3 linked regions of the Homo sapiens genome follow. The protein of the gene in region 1 purifies or fractionates together with the protein of each later gene. This does not show direct contact. Each region holds a gene or a part of one and is shown on either strand. Other genes may lie near its edges.

The links.
Region 2: the proteins of RHEX (region 1) and NOS1AP purify together in Homo sapiens (affinity purification with mass spectrometry; 2 studies listed by BioGRID and IntAct, with this or other methods). This does not show direct contact.
Region 3: the proteins of RHEX (region 1) and ATP13A1 purify together in Homo sapiens (affinity purification with mass spectrometry; one large-scale study listed by BioGRID and IntAct). This does not show direct contact.

The regions. Positions count from the first base shown.
Region 1 is NC_000001.11:206,098,068-206,100,606, reverse strand, and holds part of RHEX (regulator of hemoglobinization and erythroid cell expansion protein), read right to left. Parts: intron 2,527-2,539; coding exon 2,426-2,526; intron 953-2,425; coding exon 809-952; intron 1-808. UniProt on the Homo sapiens protein: Acts as a signaling transduction factor of the EPO-EPOR signaling pathway promoting erythroid cell differentiation.
Region 2 is NC_000001.11:162,359,640-162,363,290, reverse strand, and holds part of NOS1AP (carboxyl-terminal PDZ ligand of neuronal nitric oxide synthase protein), read right to left. Parts: intron 309-3,651; exon of another isoform or gene 1-308. UniProt on the Homo sapiens protein: Adapter protein involved in neuronal nitric-oxide (NO) synthesis regulation via its association with nNOS/NOS1. The complex formed with NOS1 and synapsins is necessary for specific NO and synapsin functions at a presynaptic level.
Region 3 is NC_000019.10:19,653,541-19,657,191, forward strand, and holds part of ATP13A1 (endoplasmic reticulum transmembrane helix translocase), read right to left. Parts: intron 3,610-3,651; coding exon 3,454-3,609; intron 3,377-3,453; coding exon 3,307-3,376; intron 3,227-3,306; coding exon 3,120-3,226; intron 2,644-3,119; coding exon 2,514-2,643; intron 2,394-2,513; coding exon 2,338-2,393; intron 2,115-2,337; coding exon 1,988-2,114; intron 1,914-1,987; coding exon 1,776-1,913; intron 1,700-1,775; coding exon 1,579-1,699; intron 1,161-1,578; coding exon 1,003-1,160; intron 605-1,002; coding exon 429-604; intron 355-428; coding exon 244-354; intron 1-243. UniProt on the Homo sapiens protein: Endoplasmic reticulum translocase required to remove mitochondrial transmembrane proteins mistargeted to the endoplasmic reticulum.

The sequences.
Region 1 (2,539 bases):
TGATTCTAGCCAGGCTCTGGTGAAGCTTTGGGGCCAGGGGTTAGGGTAAGGCCAGTGCCTCTCCAGTTCTGTTGAAACATGCATATGAGCAGCACCCTCAGGTCCCCACAGGCAGGCACTGAGGCCATGTCTCAACTGAAAAGATAAAATCAGGACAGAGCAAATTCAAACCAATCAAGAGACAAACCAGTGGAAGAAGTGCAATCTCTGGTGAGTGAGCCCCTATCAGGGAGTTGCCTTGTTGCCAAAGCAGCCACTTCCACTGTGAATAGTGACCTATTGGCTCACTTGCAGGAGGGTGATATAGATTTGAACCAGCAGCAAGATTCACATTTATACACTCAGATACCCATGCAGATCTAAGACCATGAAAAAGGGTCCCTCTAGGGACTATGGAGGAGCCAGCTACAGAGCCAGCCAATAACACTGACATAGCAGCAGCCACGGTGGAGGCAGGCAGAGGCAGGTGAAATTTTAACTCCACCATTAGCTGATCAATCCGAAGAAAAGATGCCATGGCTTTACAAAGAGAAGAGCAGGGACATTTCCCAAGCCGCCTGCAATCATTTGCACACGACTAAACCCGGGAAAGAACTTAGACCCACACAAACTCAGAATGATCTTCCCCACGAAATAGAATAAAACACCTTTCTGAAAAAAAGTAGGCTGGCAAGGCTGTCCTGATGTGGCTGTGAGGAATCCTCAGGCTAGAGGTTTGGGCCCATGGGGTTGCTGCAGGGAGGTCCTGGGTGTCCAGAGAGAGCAAAGTTAGTCCCTAGACAAGTTCTCCCTCCAACCCCTTACTCACGCCTGTAAAGGGAATCAGACATTGGGATGTCTCTCTCTGTCTGAGTCTCCTTCATCTCTTTGACAGCAGGTGGATGATGGTGGCCAGGGCTGGGCCTGGGAACCTGGAGACTGGCCGCTTTCAGTATCTGTTCACTCTTGTGGGCTGGAAGGGAGAGGGCAGGGATCAAAAGTGGAAACTGGCCAGGCGCAGTAGCTCATGCCTGTAATCCCAGCAATTTGGGAGGCTGAGGTAAATGGATCACTTGAGGTCACAAGTTCGAGACCAGCCTGGTCAACATGGTGAAACCCCATCTCTACTAAAAATACAAAAATTAGTTGGGCATGATGATGCGTGCCGGTAATGTCAGATACTAGGGAGGCTGAGGCAAGAGAACTGCTTGAACCTGGGAGGCAGAGGTTGCAGCGAGCCGAGACTGTGCCACTGCACTCAAGCCTGGGGGACAGAGTGAGACTCCATCTCAAAAAAAAAAAAAAGTGGAAGCTGCCTGGGTTAGGCACATCGGCTCTTGAATCAGCGCCTGTTGAACACTGCCCTCAGTAAAGCAAACCTTTCAGAAAGATCCCTTCAAACCTCAGCACTGCTGTGCTCAAAACCCTGCCATGGTTCCACGCCTCACTTGGAAAAAGCCAAGTCCCAGCCTCCGAGGCCTCACTCCTCCTTCCTCTCTGGCTTTCTCCTGCTTCTCTCTGCCTGCTCCAGCTGCCCAGCCTCTTTGCTCTTGCTAGCATGTGCCTAACACGTTCCTCCTTCAGGCCTTTGCAGGTAGAGTTCACGCCTCACTCCCTGCAAGTTTATACTCAAAGGTTAGCCTTTTGGGGATGCCAGCCATCCACCAAGCTGTATCAACTCCCTTGTTCCATTTTTCCTCCCTAGCACTTACCATAATCTAGCATATACATGTTTTACTTGTTTATCTTGTTTGTTGTCACATGGAATGAAAGATTCCGGGGGTAGGAATTTTTGTTTTGTTCCCTGTTGTGTAGCCTAGGCCCAGAGAGTGTCTTAGATGCTCAAGAAATATCTGCTGAATGAATGAATGAACAAATGAATGAATGAAGGTAGACTTAACTAGAAAGACCCTCAAAACATCATCTTGCCCCGTCCTTTCTCTTAGCACAACCAAAGCAGCATTGTTTTATTTTCCCTAATTGAAATGCCTTTCCAGGACCGAGCTTCACTACCTTCTATTGTTTATCAGTTCAAGAATTTAAACTAATCTCTAAGTCCAACCATATTTCCTTCTGTTGTAATTCAAGGACATTTCTTCATATTCAGTCCTTTAACAGGGATGAAGAAAATTAATTAGACCAGGTTACACGAGCACTTCCTCGTAGGCATTGCAAAAGCTGTGTCTAGGCAGAAGGTCTGGGTAGTAGACGGATGTGGATGGCCACTTCCAGCCAGAAATAGTTGGTTAAAAGGTGAGGTCAGAGTGGGGATTACCCAGATACAGTTATTGGGGGGAGGGGGAGCGGTGGGAAGGAATTTGGCCGGTGGGTCCTCTGGTAGGTTTTTGAGTGACGTTTGGGAACTCCAAAGGGGTCTTGTCCTGCTGGAGGCTCGAGAATGGTCTCTGAGAGTGACTAGGAGGGAAGAGGATGCTGAGCCAGTTACCCATGTGCCTGCTGAGCAGGTAGTTGATGGCGGTGAGGAAGCAGGCCTGCAGGAAGAGGGACACCACCGCGATCACTAAGCCATGCCAGACCTCCATGACTCTGTTGGGAAAGA
Region 2 (3,651 bases), about 44 Mb from region 1:
CAGTAAATGTAGGTGTTTTCCTGAGTTCTGTCAGTTGCTCTAGCAAATCAGTTGAGTCCAAGGAGAGGGTAGTGGGAACACCAATTTATAGCCACTTGGTCAGAGGTGTAGGTGACAAACTATTACTTGTGATTGGTGTCTGAAATGGGGGAAAGTCTTGTGGGATTGAGCCCTCAAACTGTGGGATCTGATGCTGTTTCCAGGTAGATAGTATCAGAATCAAACTGAGTTAGAGGACACTGTGTGCCCTCTGCAGAACTGCTTGCTTGCTTGGTGTGTGGGAAAAAGCCCCATACATTTGGTCATAGAAGTATGTTGTGACAGTATAGCAGGAAGAAACTGAGTTTGTTTCTTCCTATATCCACTCAACAGGGAAAGAAATGTCAATAATATTGTAATCTGGATGTCAGATGGTGGGTGGCTATTAAGGTTTTCTCCTCTTTGGAAAGGGAGGCATGGAGAAATTTCAGCTGGGGGTCCCCCAAATCTATTTGGTTCTAAGGAACAGGACAACTGCTATGGGAAGCCCACAGATAAGCCTCAGAGAAGGGTAAGCTTAATCTTGCACTTATGAGTACCGTTACTTATCCCAACAAAGAGTGGCATCGAAAGGAACCTACTGAGCAAATAAAATTACTAAATTATTCATCTTCCATTTTCTTTGGAACCAAACCAACCAGAGAGAAATGTGGAACAAAGTCTTTCAGCAGATATAAACAAAGAAAGTAGAGAATCCTGCATACCTCTAACTGGCACTTATTGAGGGCTCTCTGCACACATACTGCAGAGTCAGTTTCTTTTCTTTTCTTTTCTTTCTTTCTTTTTTCTTCTTTTTTTTTTTTTTTTGAGACTCACTCTGTCACCCAGGCTGGAGTGCAGTGGAATGATCTCAGCTCACTGCAACCTCTCCCTCCTGGGTTCAAGCGATTCTCCTGCCTCATCCTCCCAAACAGCTGGAATTACTGGCGCCCGCCACCACACCTAGCTAATTTTTGTATTTTTAGTAGAGACGGGGTTTCCCCATGTTGGCCGGGCTGGTCTCAAACTCCTGACCTCAAGTGATCCACCTGCCTCGGCCTCCCAAAGTGCTGGGACTACAGGTGTGAGCCACCATGCCCAGCCCAGAGTCAGTTTCCTGCTTTCCAGTCTGAACATCCCAACAGGACAGGCCATTTGAATGCACCAGACCAGGAGCTGGAGTGCTTGTCTGTTGGGTACTCCCTAGGCAGTTGTAGACAACTCACTTCTCTCTGGACCTCAGTTTCTCCATCTGTCAACCGAGAGGACTGGCTTGAGGCTGAGACAGTTGATAATTCTACATCCAGGTTGACATTGTGGTCAGTACTGGAGGCAATTTGTTAATGGCTCATTGAAGAAAACTCTCAGTTCCCCATTGTGAAGTCAGAATTAGAATTGAGGGTGAAGGAAAAGTCCCCTCTTACAGAAGCCAGGAAAAAAATTGAAAGCTTTTTTTGCAGGTACCCAAGTTCAATGGTGGAGTACCAGCAATACCTAGAAGAAGACCTTTGACTCAAATGCTTCCCATCGCAGATCCATTGGCACCAAGTGCCATGAGAAAATGCTCCTTGTACCAGATTAAATAAGAGTTTTACCTCTGTAAACCCAGTTACACTATTTCAGGTATTTTCAAGTCCTGTGAATATGTGAGCACCCACTGCTGCTACTGCCTGAGCCAGCACTAATGAGCCCTCTGCTTCTGCAGCTGTCAAAAGTGGTACTGGGCATAAGGCTCAAACCTCAAGCTGTGGCAGGCTGTGCTGCAGGAGAACCCAAACCAGGCCATACTGAGACAAAATAGCCTGGACTTCTTTTAACTTTGAGGTGCAGCATTTTATAACTATGTAGGCTCGAACTTGAAGCACTGAAACGAGGCAGCGTTACGTGAAACCTTGGTTTGGGCAGTCTGCTACAGCCCTCTGTGCTTTGTTTCCCCATTCATACAACAGGGGCAGAGAGCACCACCTCCTCCCCACCAGATGGGATTTTTTTTTTGTATTTAGCATGCTTTTCTTTCAAAGAATTAAGCCCCTTTTGTAAAAGTAGACCATATTTCTTTCTGGAAAGGTACAAATTAGTGTCTCCTTTGCAGAACTGTGTTGTCTTTGGCAATGAATGTTGTACTTACATACTAAGTCAGTGATGTGGCACAGAGTGATGTGACACTACGGCCACGTCCCGAGTGCCAGGGCTCAGATGTCCAGCTCTGCACTCTGGCCTCATCATGACACACAAAAGTTCAGCCCTGCACCCTCCAGCTCTACACTGCTTTCCCAAACTCTGAAACCCACCCTCAACCCACCCAGCCACACCAGACCATTGGCGCCCTCACTCTCCAGCTTACTTGCCTGGACTCCAGCTCCTCCATCAGAAGTGAGGGCAGGGCCAGGCTGAAGTTAGGGAGTAGCAGGCACATGGAAATGGCAGTGGAGAGAACCAGAGCAATTTGCCCCACCACACACTGGACACAGAAGCAGAGGCAGGCGCCGCTGTCTCAGCATGCACATGGCAGGGACTTGGGCAGTGCATGCCAGCGTGCTGGGGACTGGGAGAAGCCACAGGGACATATGCTAAATAGAGGGCCTGGGGTGGGGATGCGGAGTTTTGTTAGCACTGTTCCTCTAACTACAGCATACATGATTGCGAAGCATAAATAACCAATTCCTTGTTCCTGAACAAACAGAAGTGGCAGCAGGTAGAGGAGAAATCTTTAAATAGCAATACTGAACTGTACTAACACTTTCCTCAGGAAAAAGGCTGGGAATTGGCAAACTGTGAATAGACCTGGCCTACTTAACACTTGCCAATCAGCCACAGTGCCCAGATCAGTTCTGAGACTATGTCGGCCCAGCCCATGGCCATGCAGGTGCCAGCTACATCCCAGCTTCGCTTCGAGGCTTAGCTATACTCTCATTCACACCCTTGAACTTCTGGTCCACCTAAAAGCAGGAAGCTAGTGCAGCCAGGCAAGCCTCATGCTGGGTCGGAAGAGCGGTCAGAGGGACTTGGGTATTCACTACTTACCCACTGAGGTCTAACCCGGAAATACTTAAGAGTTGGTTGAATACCACCTTTGCCCATATACCTTTAAGGTCAGGGCGGGCCCCTTTGAGACCAGCTCAGAACCAATTTAGGGTGAGGCTGGGAGAGGTCTTGCGGTCTTAGACCAAATCAGGACACTGTGAAGGAAACCTAAGCCTGGTCCCCATGGCAACAGCAGAACTAGACTAGTCTGTGGGAAGAAATGGGGGTGGTGGGGGGGGGACGACATAAATAGTGCAACAAGTGACATCAAGGGTACACTTGTCTGCAAGAAACTGTCTTTATCCTTAGATTTTTATCCAGGAACAACATAGGAGGATTTGGATGCTCTCCGAGAGAAGGAAACTATTCCCACCTGAAAGGCTGAGGTCATAGTTTTACTCACTGGAATTCTGGGGACTGCTGGTAGTTTAATAAAGACAGACAGAAGCCTTGCAGTTTGGTGGCAATAGAGTCTGACAGAACAAGTAAGAGCTGACCTCGTGCTGGAAACTGAAATCAGCCCCCCCCCGCGTAGAGAAACCAAGCTTGCTATACTTGGTCTATTTCAAATGTGTGAAAGATGCCAAGAAGACCCACCTATTAATCCAG
Region 3 (3,651 bases), on another chromosome or scaffold:
GACACACCAGGACTGGGGCAGGTAAGCCCTGCGTGTGCTCTGCGTGAGCCAGGACTGGGTGGGTCCCCACAGCAGTGGACAGACTGAGTGCCATTTGGAGTCTCCAAAGGTAGAAGCTGGAGGCGGGGCAAGGAGGACAAAATCACAACCATTCAACCTGGCACTGTGGGACACAGGAGGTGACTCAGGGAGGAGCTGACGGGCCAGGCACATGGTGAAGGCAGGGGGAGCCTGGGCCCGTACCTGCTGGTGAGTGAGGTGTCCCAGCTCCTTGTACCCCAGCGCCAGGACGCGGGCTCCTTCCCGGGAGATCTCGGTGTGGATGTGGTGGTAGTCGGGCGGGCACTGGGAGAACTGCAGGGAATGCAGGGGGATGTCACGGGCTGCCCCGCGCCCCCACCCCTTGCCCCAGGCTGGGGCCAGCTCACCATGGAGTGCAGAGTTTCGGGGGCCCCCTTCACGGCCGCGATGTAGCAGAGGTCGGTGGAGCCCAGCTTCTCATACGAGGCAAGCACGGACATTCGCTTCAGGGCACTGGCAAAATGAAAGCGCTGGTGAATTTTCAGCCCCTGAGTTTTAATACTTCGGGGGAATACTTTCTCATCTGGAAACAAATAAGTACGAGTCCTGAGGGGCTTTGCTCCAAAGAGGCAGCCAAGCCCCTACCTCTCACCCCGGCCTCCCCCACCTCCCTCCTGCCTCCCCCAGGGCCTGATCGGGGCTCTGGGCTAGAGCAGGTGTTGGTCCAGAGCTGGAAGACCTGGGCTTGGAGGACCCTGGCACTGTGGCTTCGGCCAGGGCAGGGCAGATTCCAACCCAGAGGGACACCCAAGGACGTGGCCTATCCTGGGTCTAAAGTGAGCCTCTGGCCACCCACCTCGGGGAGCATCAGAGCTGTAGGCCTGCCTGTCCCCAAGATGCTCTGAGGGGTGCAGCCCACCTGCCTAGGGCTGTGAGAGCCAGTGGCTCCCCCTTGCTGGGCCTGAGGCCCCAGCCCCTCACCTTTGGTCAGCGTCCAGTCCACGGCCGTCAGCATGGCCTTCTCTAGAGGGTCACCCACGAGGGTGCCGTCGTCCAGCTGCATGAGCGAGTGGCACGAGGCCAGGGCCCGGTGTGTTTCTACAGGGATGCTGGACACTGGGGTCACCTCCTTCCCGTCTCTGCAAGGTCGGGGAACAGCTGGTTACAGAGTGCAGGCGGGTAGGGCGAAGCTGCATCCCCACCAGCAGAAGGACCCCCAAGGCCATTCATTCCGTGCTTGTCACTGGGGTGGCTTGGGCGCCAACTGGGTCTTTATGAGACCTGCACCTGCTTCACAGATGCCCCCAGAAGCCAGGCATTGTGCCTGGGGGTCATGTGGTGCATGGCTGGTGTGGGATGTTCCAGGCCTGAGCTGAGCCCCCGTGCCGCTACCATGGCTGACACCCAGGACTTTGTGGGGAGCCCCTGGAAATGAACCCGAGGCAGGGCCTCTGACGGGCCCTCACTGCAAGGGCTTGGGGTGGATGGGCCACCTGTCTCTCGACTTCCCAGAAACCCCATCTGGGTGACCTTTGCTGCAGGGCCCCTGATGCTTACCTCAGCCCGGCCACACCGCGCACCACCAGGCTGTCACTGGTCAACGTCCCCGTCTTGTCAAAGCAGCACACCTCGACCTTGCCAGCAAAGGGGATCCGGAAGGGCTCTGTGCAGTACATGTCTAGGGGCGGGAGTGAGGTCAGGGGTCCTGCTTGGCCCCAGCCCACTCGGCACCCCATCCCATTTGACACACTCACAGAGCTTGGCCAGGGCGATGAGGGAGGTGTTGACGGCCAGGGACAGCTCGATGGGCAGCTCAGGAGGCACGACCGAGGTGAGGATCAGGGTGCACTCCAGAAACAGCTTGTAGCGGTTCCGGCTGGGGTCCTTGGTACCTGTGGAGACAGGGCCTGCCAACCTGGAGCCTCGGAGGGTGGGCGCAGGGGACCACAGAGGCCGTGGCGCTTACCTTCAATCCATACATAGGCAGCTGCAGCGATGGCAAACACCAGGAGGAAGAGGATGAAGATGAAGGTCTCCAGGTTGTTCGCAGTCACCCTCTTGACCCCGAAGAGGATGGTGCGCAGCAGCTTGCCCTGGAGGAATGGAGGAACAGCCTTTCTGCTGTCTGGACTCCCTCCAGCAGCTCAGGCCTGGAAGCGTGGGCCTGGTCTTGGGGTGGCCTCTGCACCCTGGCCCAGGTCCAGGGCCGTGCTGCCAGAGTCAGCCCGTGGGGCAGATGTTCTGGGGTCGGAAAGGGCTGATACCTTGGCTGTCCAACTGCCCTGGGGCCCGCCCTCCCCAGACCTGGCCCCGCACCTGGGATGTGTTGAATCCGGTCCGCAGGACGTAGGCCACGCACCCGCTGTCAACCGCTGGGGAGAGAAGCAGAGTCACCGTCATGCCTGTCTCCTCGTCCTGACTCCCTCATGATCAAGCAGACGGGCAAAGGGGGTGGAAGCCCAGATACCCCCAGACGCCCATGAGGCACCTACGCTTCAGGCCCGTGGTGGCTTTCTGTGGGGGGATGTGCTGCACCACCTTGGTGCCCCCGAAGATGACGTGCAGCCGGGAATCAGCCTGGAGGTCCAGCACCCGGTCTGGGCTGAGGTCTTCGATGGGCTCCTGGGGAGGAAGATCGTGAATCTGGATGGCCAGGCCTACCTTGCTTCCTTCTCCATCTGAGTTCCTGGACAGCTGGACCTTGAGGCTGGAATGAGCCAGGGGGATCCCCACCCGACCAATACATCCCACCCAGCTCCCAGATCCTCACCCTCACCCCGTCCTGTCTTCTCCCCATTGCACTCACAGTGCCTGCTCTCTGGGGCCTGCACTTGGCCTCGTCTGGGACTCACCCCTCTGGACTGCTCCCAGCCCACCTTGGTCTGACATCCCAGGGCACCAATGTACCCTGGATGCCCTTGGCTCTCTCACCTCCTTCCTCGCCCCCACCACCCGGCTCCCCAGTCCACAGAGCTCATCTGTGCCCACACTGCCTCCTCCGCCTGTGCCTGAGGGGGATCCCCGCCACCCCCTGGGCCTCCACCTCCTGGCCTGTTTCCTCCTGAACAGCTTGAGGATCCCCATCCTCCACCAAGTACCTTCATCTGTGGCACGGACTCCCCCGTGAGCATGGCCTCGTCTACGATGCAGCGGCCTCGCAGCAGAAGCACGTCACATGGCACCAGGTTCTCCTGTGGGGAGCGGCCTGCAGGGCAGAGGCAGGAGGGTTGGCCAGAGGCCCTGAGGCTGGGGCTCCCACTGGGACTGAGCGGAACCCGGCCTCACCGATGGAGACGATGTCCCCTGGTACGATCTCATCACTGGCAATGGGCCTCCACTTGCGGCTTCGGTAGACCTGGGCGGGGCATGGGTGTCAGCACAGAAGCCGCACCTGTGCTGCACCCCCAACCTGGGTCTCCCTGGCAGCCACACCTGGATCATGTGGGGCTTGTTGCCCATCTTCCGGATCTCCGACATGTTCCGCATCTGCTGCTGCACCAGCGAGGCCTCGAACGCCACCAGCATGGATAGCGTAAAGACGCTGTAGTACCAGTACTCATCCAGGCACCAGAGCCCCACACAGAACACCTGTGGGATACCAGCCTGTCTGTCCTTGCCCTACCCGCCCTG